Linked DNA regions of Homo sapiens: region 1 is linked to region 2. Evidence: fine-mapped expression QTL. A gene starts in region 2. The other region holds a variant in brackets. All regions are shown on one strand. Distances are from middle to middle. Region 1 overlaps TMEM39A (transmembrane protein 39A). Region 2 holds the start of POGLUT1 (protein O-glucosyltransferase 1).

Evidence for each region. PIP is the estimated chance that this variant, and not a neighbour inherited with it, causes the effect. A credible set is the group of variants that fine-mapping cannot tell apart.
Region 1: its variant is the best candidate, but not a certain one, in a credible set for the expression of POGLUT1 in monocytes after interferon gamma (Fairfax 2014, PIP 0.62).

What each region holds. Positions count from the first base shown.
Region 1 is chr3:119,440,751-119,446,131 of GRCh38, reverse strand. All of the region lies in intron 5 of TMEM39A (transmembrane protein 39A), which reads left to right. Among named protein-coding and RNA genes, the nearest start is that of TMEM39A, 20 kb to the left of the region's middle. The variant T/ATTTTT (reference allele first, on the strand shown) is at 2,226.
Region 2 is chr3:119,465,804-119,471,184 of GRCh38, reverse strand. It overlaps POGLUT1 (protein O-glucosyltransferase 1), which reads right to left and starts at 2,222. Exons shown (of 11, transcript NM_152305.3): 1 at 2,079-2,222; 2 at 1,275-1,365. The coding sequence starts at 2,163. RefSeq lists a silencer at 1,946-2,145 and enhancers at 2,196-2,365, 2,058-2,558.

The sequences.
Region 1 (5,381 bases), 25 kb after region 2:
GAAATTGTAAACAGTATATTGTTATAATTGTTCTATTTTATTATTAATCTCTTAATGTACCTAATTTATAAGTTAAAACTTTATTGTATGTATGTGTATATAGTATAGGAAAAAACATAGTGTATGTAGGGTTTGGTACTATCCATGGTTTTAGGCATCCACTGGGGTGTTGGAATGTCTTCCTGCAGGTAAGAGGGTCTACTCTATGCCATATTCAAGTGCTGTAGACATGTATATATATTATTATGATTGTAACTAACATTTTATTACAAAACCTTTTAAACATTCAACAAGGTTGAAAGAATTTTACAGCTATCACCAGTGTAATCCTTACCCAGATGATTCTGCCTATTAATGTTTTACTATAACTGTGTAATACTTATCTGTCCATCTCTCCATCCCTCTATCCATTAGTCCATCTTACTTTTGATGCATTTCAAAGTTAAATTTCAGACCTCAGTTTGCTTCCTCCTCAATACTTCAGCATGTGTGTATCATTAACTAGAGCTCGATATTTGTTGACAGCTTTTTTTTCTTTTGAGGTTAAATTCATATAAATAAAATTCCCGCCGGGCGCGGTGGCTCAAGCCTGTAATCCTAGCACTTTGGGAGGCCGAGGTGGGCAGATCACCTGAGGTTAGTAGTTCGAGACCAGCCTCGCCAACATGGCGAAACCCCGTCTCTACTAAAAATAAAAAAATTAGCAGGGCGTGGTGGCACGTGTCTGTAATCCCAGTTACTCGGGAGGCTGAGGCAGAAGAATCACTCGAACCCAGGAGATGGAGGTTGCAATGAGCCAGAGCCAGGATCGCGCCATGGCACTCCAGACTGGGCGACGAGCAAGACTCTGTCTCAAATAAATAAATAAATAAAATAAAATAAAATAAAATTCCCAAATCTTGTGTATATGGAGTTTTGTTAAATGTGGACATACCTGTGTGACTTAATCCCCTGTCAAGACTTCAGAGCGTTACACATACTCCACAAGATTCTGTCATGCCACTTTCCCATCAAACCCCACCACTGTCCAGAGACGGTTGCTTTTTTTTTTTGAGACAGGGTTTTGCTCTGTCATCCAGGCGGGAGTGCAGTAGAGCGATCTCAGCTCACTGCAGCCTTGACCTCTCAGGCTCAAGCAATTCTCCCACCTCAGCCTCCCAAGTAGTTGGGACTACATGTGCACACCACCATGCCCCGCTAATTTTTGTTTTGTTTTGTTTTGTAGAGACAGGATTTTACCATGTTGCCCAGGCTGAGGAGTAAGGTTTTTTTGATTCCAGAGTCTTTGTCTTAATCATTACTGTATCAGTAGTTCTCAAAATGTAGTTTCTAGAACAGCAGCATCAGCATCACCTATAAATTTGTTGGAAATTCTCAGAATCTACCCCAAACCTACTGAAATAGAAACTGGAAAGTAGGACCTAGCAAGTTGTGTTTTAACAAGCCCTCAAGGTGATTCTGATGCATGCTCAAGTTTGAGAATTACTGCTTTATATTATTTATGGTGCTGAAGTGTTAGCGTGAATTTATGTGGGTAATTACAAAGTATAAAATCAAGTCATAATTAGAGATTGTGCTAATAAGGATGACAGGAACAGTCTTTCTATTGGTTATACTATAGTAGGTCTGATTACATTGTTTAAACAGTTATTTAAGTCACTCATCAACTGAATTCATTAATATTACCCTTGTTTTCTACAAAATGAATTATCTGTTACGAACATTTTTCATGACTCTGATTTCATATGAGGAATATATTTTACATGAATTGTTTCTATATTTATAGATTAATATTTCAGCCATTTGAGTTGAAAATAAATTTTTAGTCATTCTCCTTACTGGTTGAATCAGAAGATTAACCGTGTCTGATTTGAACGGCTAATTATGGGTATATTGAAGAATATTTTGGCCAAGTTTAAGAGGATTACTATTATCAGGATGGCTAGCAAACTTTTCTGTTTCAATTTAAGTATATAAAGAAACTTACTCTTAGAGGCTCTCCACACCCCTTAAAACAATGAAATAATTATGTAATTTAAATACATTTTAGTTTTAAACATACAGGCATACCTCAGAGATGTTGTAAGTTCTGTTCCAGACTGCTGCAATAAAGCGAATATCACAATAAACGAGTCATGTCAATTTTTTGATTTCCTAGTGCATATGAAAGTTATGTGTACACTATACTGTAGTCTATTTTATTTTATTTTATTTTATTTTATTTT[T/ATTTTT]TGAGACAAGGTCTTGCTGTGTTGCCCAGGCTGGAGTGCAGTGGTGCAATCACAGCTCACTGCAGCCTTGCCCTCCTAGGATTGCTCAAGCAATCCTAGGGGACTGGGACTGTAGCCGTGTGCCACCATGCCTGGCTAATTTTTAAATTTTTTTGTAGAGATCGGGTCTCGTTTTGTTGCCCAGGCTGGTCTTGAACTCCTGGGCTCAAGTGATCCTCTTGCCTTGGCCTCCCAAAGTGCTGGGGTTACAGAGGGGAGCCACCATGCCCAGCCTTATACTATCTGTATTCTATTAAGTACATAATAGCATTATGTCTTTTAAAAGTACATATCTTAATTAAAAAATACTTGATTGCTAAAGTATGCAGATGAGCATTTGAGCCTTCAGTGAGTTGTAATCTTGCTGGTGGAGAGTCTTGCCTCAATGTTGATGGCTGCTGACTGATCAGGGTGGTGGTTGCTGAAGGTTGGGATGGCTTTGTCACTTTCTTAAAATAAGACAACAGTGAAGTTGGCCACATCAGTTGACACTTCCTTTCATGAAACATATCTCTGTAGCATGTGATGTGTTTGATAGATAATATTTTACCCACAGTGGAACTTCTTTCAACATTGAAGTCATTTCTCTCAAACCCTATTGCTGCTGTAACAACTAAGTTTATATAATATTCTAAACTCTTTGTCATTTCAACAGTGTTCTCAGCATCTTTACCAGAAATAGATTTTATGTCAAGAAACAACTTTCTTATCCATAAGAAGCAGCTCCTTATCCGTTTAAGTTTGATTGTGAGAGAGTGCAGCCACATCTTCAGGCTTCACTTTTTTTTTTTTTTTTTTTTTTTTGAGACAGGGTCTCACTGTCGCCCAGGTTGGAGTGCAGTGGTATAATCATGGCTCACTGCAACATCTGTCTCCTGGGCTCAAGTGATCCTCCCACCTCAGCCTCTCAAGTAGCTGGGACTACAGGTGTGTGCCACCACACCCGGCTAATTTTTGTATTTTGTTTTTTTGTAGAGGTGGGGTTTTGCTATGTTGCCTAGGCTGGTGTCGAACTCCTAGGCTCAAGTGATCCAGCCTCCTTGGCTTCCCAAAGTGCTGGGATTAGAGGCATGAGCCACTGCACCTAGTCCAGGCTCCACTTCTAATTCTAGTTCTGTTGCTTTTTCTTCCACATTTGCGGTTACTTTCTCCAGTGAAGTCTTGAACCTCTCAAAGTCATCCATGAGGGTAGGAATCAACTTCCTCCACATTTGCTCGTGTTGATATTTTGACCTCCTCTCATAAATCACAAATGTTCTCAATGGCATTTAGCATGGTGAATTGTTTCCAGATGGTTTTCAGTTTACTTTGCCCAGATCCATTGGAGGAATCTCTATTTAATGCAGAAATAGCCTTACAAAACGTATTTCTTAAATAATAAGATTTGAAAATCAGAATTACTTCTTGATTCATGGCTGCAGAATGGATGCTATCTTAACAGGCATAAAAACAACAATCTCCATCAGAGCCTTTGGTGACTAGGTACACTGTCAATGAGCAGTAAGTACTTTTTTTTTTTTTTTTTGAGATGGAGTCTTTCTCTGTTGCCCAGGCTGGAATGCAGTGGTGTGATCTCAGCTCACTGCAACCTCTGCCTCCCAGGTTCAAGTGATTGTCCTGCCTCAGCCTCCCAAGTAGCTGGGACTACAGGTGCATGCCACCATGCCTGGCTAATTTCTTTGGATTTTTAGTAGAGTCGGGGTTTCGCTATGTTGGCCATGCTGGTGTCGAACTCCTGACCTCAGGTGCTCCGCCTGCCTCAGCCTCCCAAAGTGCTGGGATTACAGGCGTGAGCCACCGCACCCAGCCGTACATAATATTTTTAAAGGAATCTTTTTTCTAAACCGTAGGTTCAACAGTGAGCTTATTCAGTAAACCATGCTGTAAACAGATGTACTGTCATCCAAATATGTTGTTCTATTTCTAGAGCATTGGCAGAGTAGATTTTGCATAATTCTTAAGGATGGTAGGATTTTTGGAATGGTAAATAAGCATTGGCTTCCACTTAAAGTTACCAGCTGCGTTAGCCACTAACAAGAGAGTCAGCTTATCCTTTGAAGCTTTGAAGCCAGGCATTGACTTCTCCTCTCTAGGTATGGAAGTCTAGATGGCATCTTCTTCCAATACAGTATAAGGCTGTTTTGTCACCCTTGAAAAGTCTGTTAGTTTAGTCACCTTCATCAGTGATCTTAGCTAGGTCTTCTGGATAACTTGCTACAGTTTGTAGATTCACACTTGCTGTTTCACATTGTGCTTTTATGTTATGGGACAGCTTCTTTCCTTAAACCTCACGAACTAACCGCTGTTAACCTTCATACGTTTCTTCTGTAGCTTTCTCACCTCTCTGGAGGTTCATAGACTTAAAAAGAGTTAGGGCTTTGCTCTGGATTAGGCTTTGGTTTAGGGCAATGTCGTGGCTGGTCGATCCAGACCATATCAGCAAAACTTTCTCCATATCAGCAGTGAGGCTGTTTTCTTTGTTACCATTTGTATGTTCACTGGAGTAGCACTTTTAATTTCCTTGAATAACTTTTTCTTTGCATTTACAATTCGGCTAGCTAATACAAGAGGCCCAGCTTTCAGCTTGTCTGGGCTTTTGACATGTTTTCTCACTAAGCTTAATATCCACTTTTTGATTTAAAGTGAGAGATGTGTGATGTCCTTTCACTTGAACACTCGGAGGCCATTTAGGGTTATTAGTTGGCCTTATTTCAATATTCTTGTGTTTTAGGGAATAGGGAGGTCTGACGTGAGGGAGAGAGATGGGGGAATGGCTCATTGATGGAACAATGAGAACAAACATTTATCCATTAAGTTTGCTGTCTCATATGGTGCAGTTTGTAGTGCCCCAAAACAATTACAGTAGTAATATCAAAGATCACATTTCGCATAACAGATGTAATAGTAATGAAAAAGTTTGAAATATTGGGAGAATTACCAAAATATGGCAGAGACACAAAGTGAGCACTTTGGAAAATGGCACCCCCAGATACGCTTGATGCAGGGTTGCCACAAACCTTCAGTTTGTAATAAATACAGTATCTGGGAAGCACAATGAAGTGAAATGCAATAAAATGAGGTATGCCTGTATTTGCCTTCGTTACTTTTAAGAAGTTG
Region 2 (5,381 bases):
GAGAATGAGCAGCTCTTCCCTAGAAGCCCTGTAGGTAATCTGAAACATCAAATGCAATAAAGCAATAAAAAGTAAAAAGCGGGTCAATGTCTCTTCTTCCTCCTTCCATCTGGATTGCCCCTCCCTTGGCAGTTCTGTATTTCTCTTTCGCTACTCATGCCACACCTGTGTCCTTCTAGTCACTTCAGTCCTCCTGGCATCTCCTCCCAATCCCACAGGAGGTGAAGTTTACGCCTTACAGTCTAGCACTGACTCTCTTGTTCTGGTCTGTCTGGTCCACACTCTCCCCCACAAGCCCTTACTCTGGTAGCGTGACAGCAGTAACCAAAATTACACTATTTTGTATTCCTTTTAAAGTGAGTGCATAGTAAGTTTTCAATAAGTATCATAAGCATCCAAGGAATTTTTTGAGGAGTCAAAAATAACATAAAAAGGAGCTTAAAAGACCCTGTTATTTAGCTGATGAAGAATCTGAGACCCAGAGGAGTTGAAGTGGCTCGGCACAGGGGTAACCAGTGGGAGTACCGGCACCAACACCCAAGTCTGTTTTCAGAGTTATCTTTCTACCATACCTCATCCCGGCCCTGATGTGCATTCTCTCTCTTTTTTGAGACGGAGTCTCACTCTGTCACCCAGGCTGGGGTGCAGTGGCATGATCTGGATTCAATGCAACCTCTGCTTCCCGGGTTCAAGCGATTCTCCTGCCTCAGCCTCCCGAGTAGCTGGGATTACAGGCACGTGCCATCATGCCCAGCTAATTTTTGTATTTTTAGTAGAGACAGGGTTTCACCATGTTGGCCAGGCTGGTCTCGAAATTCTGACCTCAGGTGATCCACCTGCCTTGGCCTCTCAAAGTGCTGGGATTACAGGCATGAACCACCATGCCCAGCCTGATGTGCATTTTCTAAAGATAACCATCAGGAAATTTAGGACTAGATTCAGCGATAGATGGGTTTATTTCCTCAACAATATTTATCGAGCACGCACTGACAGCTAGCACCAGGGAGACAACAGCAAATAAGACACAGACCCTGACCTCAGGAAGCTTGCAGCCCAGTGGGAAAAACAGATGCACATGCACTGAATCCCGCAGTGAGTCAGTGGTTAGGTTGACACCACCTGAGCCTTTCCCATGCGAGAGCATTTTTATTCCCCAGAAATAGAAAAACATCCTTGCCTTTCTGACCACTGCAACCAAAATCTCTCAAGGATGTTAGAATACTTCCTGTGACAGCAACTAAACTCTCAAAGACACATCAAAGAAAAGAACTCACCCATGGTAGCAGCTGCAGTTTTGACTTGAACATGGTTCGTAATTCTCCAAAGACCTGTTAATTTGGTCAATAAATACTTTCCATTTTGAACCTTTAAAAAGTGAAGTAAATGAGAGTTAAAAAAATTTTCCTGAATGTTATTTGCTGACACCACACCAACAGAAGAAACAGAAGACCAAAACTTTCAGAAATCCCCTTCCCATCCCACTGATGGAAACGAAACGCTAGGGAGGAATTTTTGTGTGTGCAACTCCCACGCTCACGTCAAGTCTGTTCCTCTATCCGGCTGTCAGGTGTCCAAGAAACTGGAAAATTCCCAAGCTTAATGCTCAACCCTCAGAATGCTATGGATAGTGACGCGGACTCTCACTTTCTACTAATCAAATTGAACTCCACAAAGAGGATCAGTTAAAAGCTACAGACATTAAACCCCTCTTCTCTTCTGGCAACGCATATACACACACGCTCGCGCGCACGACATTTGCCCCCATCCCCGACCCCTCAGTGTTTCAGGCAGGTCCAGAGTAGCCAAGCACGGGCCACGCCTCCTGCGGGTGAACGGGGAATTCCCTCTCCTCCCTGTCATTCTGAATTCCGGGGAATGGGTTACTCTCCAGGGTCCAGAGCAGGAGCAGAGACCCCGGCACCTCACTCTCCGCCGCAAGGCGCCCCGGTGCCTTCTGCCCAGCTCCGAGCTACAGCGGCCACGGCATCTTCCCGGGAGCCGGCCGCGCGGGGGAGCGCCTCGGGACTCCGGCCAGACCCCGAGCCCAAGGGGCAGGCTCGGCACTGCCCGGAGCCCACCTGACTCCTTCTGGCGGCCCTGCGCTGAGGGCAGGAGGAACAACAGCAGCCAGAGCCGAAGCGGCGAGCTAGCCCACCACTCCATCGCCGGCAGACCTACTGCAGATTCCCCGCTGCGGCGCTGGCGGAAGCGCGGCCCCGCACAAAGATGGCCCGGGAGCCGCAGCACGTGGGCGGCGGGTCGCCCCGCACAAAGATGGCCACCGTGGCCCCACCACCCTTCCTCCAGTCCCCAGCCTTGAGGCGGAGTTTCCCTGAGAAGGCTGCGCCGGGAAGGTGGGGAGGATAAACGAATGGACCAGTTGCCTATCCTCCCTCCCTGGCACCCCTGGGAAAATAGGTCTGCAGCCAGAAAACTGAAGGTCAGAGAGGGTATGTTTCACGGTTAGTGGCACAACCAAGACTTGGCATAGAGCCTAGGCCAAACAGTTCTTCTCTTGACGTCAAATTGCCTCTTATCAAATAGCATAAATTTGTTGAGCATGTGTGTGTGTGTGTGTGTGTGTGTGTGTGTGTGTGTACAGCACGGTTAGACCCCAAAGGTTGCAATTAGCATAGCAGGGATCCCTTTGTAATAGGAATTTATAACAGTTGGGGTGACTTAGACGTAGGAAAAAAGATCAATGGTGTTAAATAAAGTTTATGGGAGGTCGTTGTTTTGGACAGAACTCTGGCACTAGGCCTCAAGAGAGCAGACAAAACCAGAATGGAGGCAACTTGTCCTAGGTGCTGCGTAATTAAACTCAGCTTTAAAAGGGGTCAGTTTTCCAACAAATAGGAGAAGGGGCCCATATACCTGAGCTGGCATGATAAAGAAGTCCCCTCTGATGTAACTCTTTGAGGAAAGTAACTTCAAAATGACCAATCTGCTTTTTGTTCCTTATTTCTGCTTTCTTCAGCCCTTTTCTGCCTATAAGCCCAACCCCTTCTGCTCAGCTCATTAGAACACTTTTCTGTTTTATAGATGAGATGCTGCCTGATTCATGAATCACTAATAAAAGCCAATTCGATTTTTTTTTTTTTTTGAGACAGAGGACAGTCTAACTCTGTTGCCCAGCCTGGAGTGCAGTGGCACAATCTTGGCTCACTATGACGTCTGCCTCCCGGGTTCAAGCAATTCTTCTGTCTCAGTCTCCCGAGTAGCTGGGATTACAGGAGTGTGTCACCATGCCCGGGTAATTTTTGTATTTTTAGTAAAGACAGGGTTTCACCGTGTTGGCCAGGTTGGTCTCAAACTCCTGACCTCAGGTGATCTGCCCACCTCGGCCTCCCAAAGTGCTGGGATTACAGGCGTGAGCCACCATGCCTGGCCAAGAACTTTAAACTAAATTTGATGAAATTTTGTTTCTTGACAGTGGGCAACATGATACTGGACAATATAGGTATATAGTATAGTACAGGTATATATCTTTATACAGGTATATATAGGTCAGTGTAGATATATTTAGTAATCATAGAACTACAAATATTTATCTATTTTCTTTTTTTTTTTTTTTTTTGAGATGGAGTTTCGCTCTTGTTGCCCAGGCTGGAGTGCAATGGTTCAATATCGGCTCACCACAACCTCCGCCTCCTGGGTTCAAGCAATTCTCCTGCCTCAGCCTCCTGAGTAGGTGGATTACAGGCTTGCGCCACCACACCCGGCTAATTTTGTATTTTTAGTAGAGATGGGGTTTCTCCATATTTGTCAGGCTGGTCTCGAACTCCCGACCTCCGGTGATCCACCAGCCTCGACCTCCCAAAGTGCTGGGATTGCAGGCGTGAGCCACTGCGCCCAGCAATATTTATCTATTTTCTAAAATGTACATGGTTATATCCCTAAGCCTTGTGGAAATATGGAAATACAGGGAAGTACAAGATCAAATCTGTGCTCCCAGGAGTTTAGAACTAGTAGGGAAGACAAATATGCTTCCTTAGAGATAGTTTACAATTTAAGGCAATAGTTAAGTGCCACTGGTTTCAGTGGAGGAAAAGATCAATATGAAGTGGAAATCTGGAGAAAGGGGTAGGAGGGGTATATTTTGTACTGAAGAAAAGGAAACGTTACAGTTAAGGAATATTGTGCTGGAGTCACTAAAAATATGGGAGCCATAATTTGCAGAAGGTGGGGATCAAATTTAGCTTGACAGTAGTGGAGGCTTTAGGATGCACGTTAAGGAATGGTGGAAGAGAAAATAATGTTGATTACCTAGGAATGGGCCGTATCGGTCACATATTACACCCATATGGGCATTTGGTCTATATTCCACCAGGGCAGAACCACCCAGTTTTTGTATGAGTGAGGCTCACTTTGGGTGAACAGACAGGAAAAAAAATGTATATCCAAAACTATAGCATATTTCTTCTGGAATCCAAATGAAACTTTAGTCAAAAATTTTTCTACTTCCAGGAAGGTGTGCAGTACAGTCATGTGTTGTTTGACAATGGGAATATGTTTTGAGAAATGTGTCAGGCAATTTTGTTGTGTGAACATCATAGATTATACTTACACAAACCTAGCTAGTATAGCCTACTACATACTGAGGATATTTGGCATAGCCTATTGCTCCTAGGCTACAAACCTATTCAGCATGTTACTGTACTGAATATTACAGGCAATTGTAACACAATGGTAAGTATTGGTGTATCTAAACATTGAAAAGGTACAGTAAATGAGTAAAAATGATACACCTGTATAAGGCACTTACCATGAATGGAGCTTGCAGGACTGAAAGTTGCTCTGGATAAGTCAGTGAGTGGTGAGTAAATGTGAACACCTAGAACATTACGCTACTATAGATTTTATAAACACTGTACAGTTAGACCATACTAAACTTATAAACACGTTTTTCTTTCTTCAGTAATAAATTAGCTTATTGTAACTTTTTTACTGTACAAACCTTTTTTTTTCAACTTTTTGACTTTGTAATAACACTTAGCTTAAAACACAAGCACATTGTACAGCCATACAAAAATATTTTTTCTTTCTTTCTTTTCCTTCCTTCCTCCCTCCCTCCCTCCTTTCTTTTCTTTTCTTTTTTTTTTTTTGAGACAGTCTCGCTTTGTTGCCCAGGCTAGAGTGCAGTGGTGCTATCTCAGCTGACTGCAACCTCTGCCTCCCAGGTTCAAGCAATTCTCGTGCCTCAGCCTCCTGAGTAGCTGGCATTACAGGTGTACACCATAACACCTGGCTAATTTTTGTATTTTTAGTAGAGACAGGGTTTCGCCATGTTGGCCAGGCTGCTGTCAAACTCCTGGCCTCCCAAAGTGTGGGGATTATAGGCATGAGCCACTGCATCCGACCTATTTTCTTTATTTCTATCT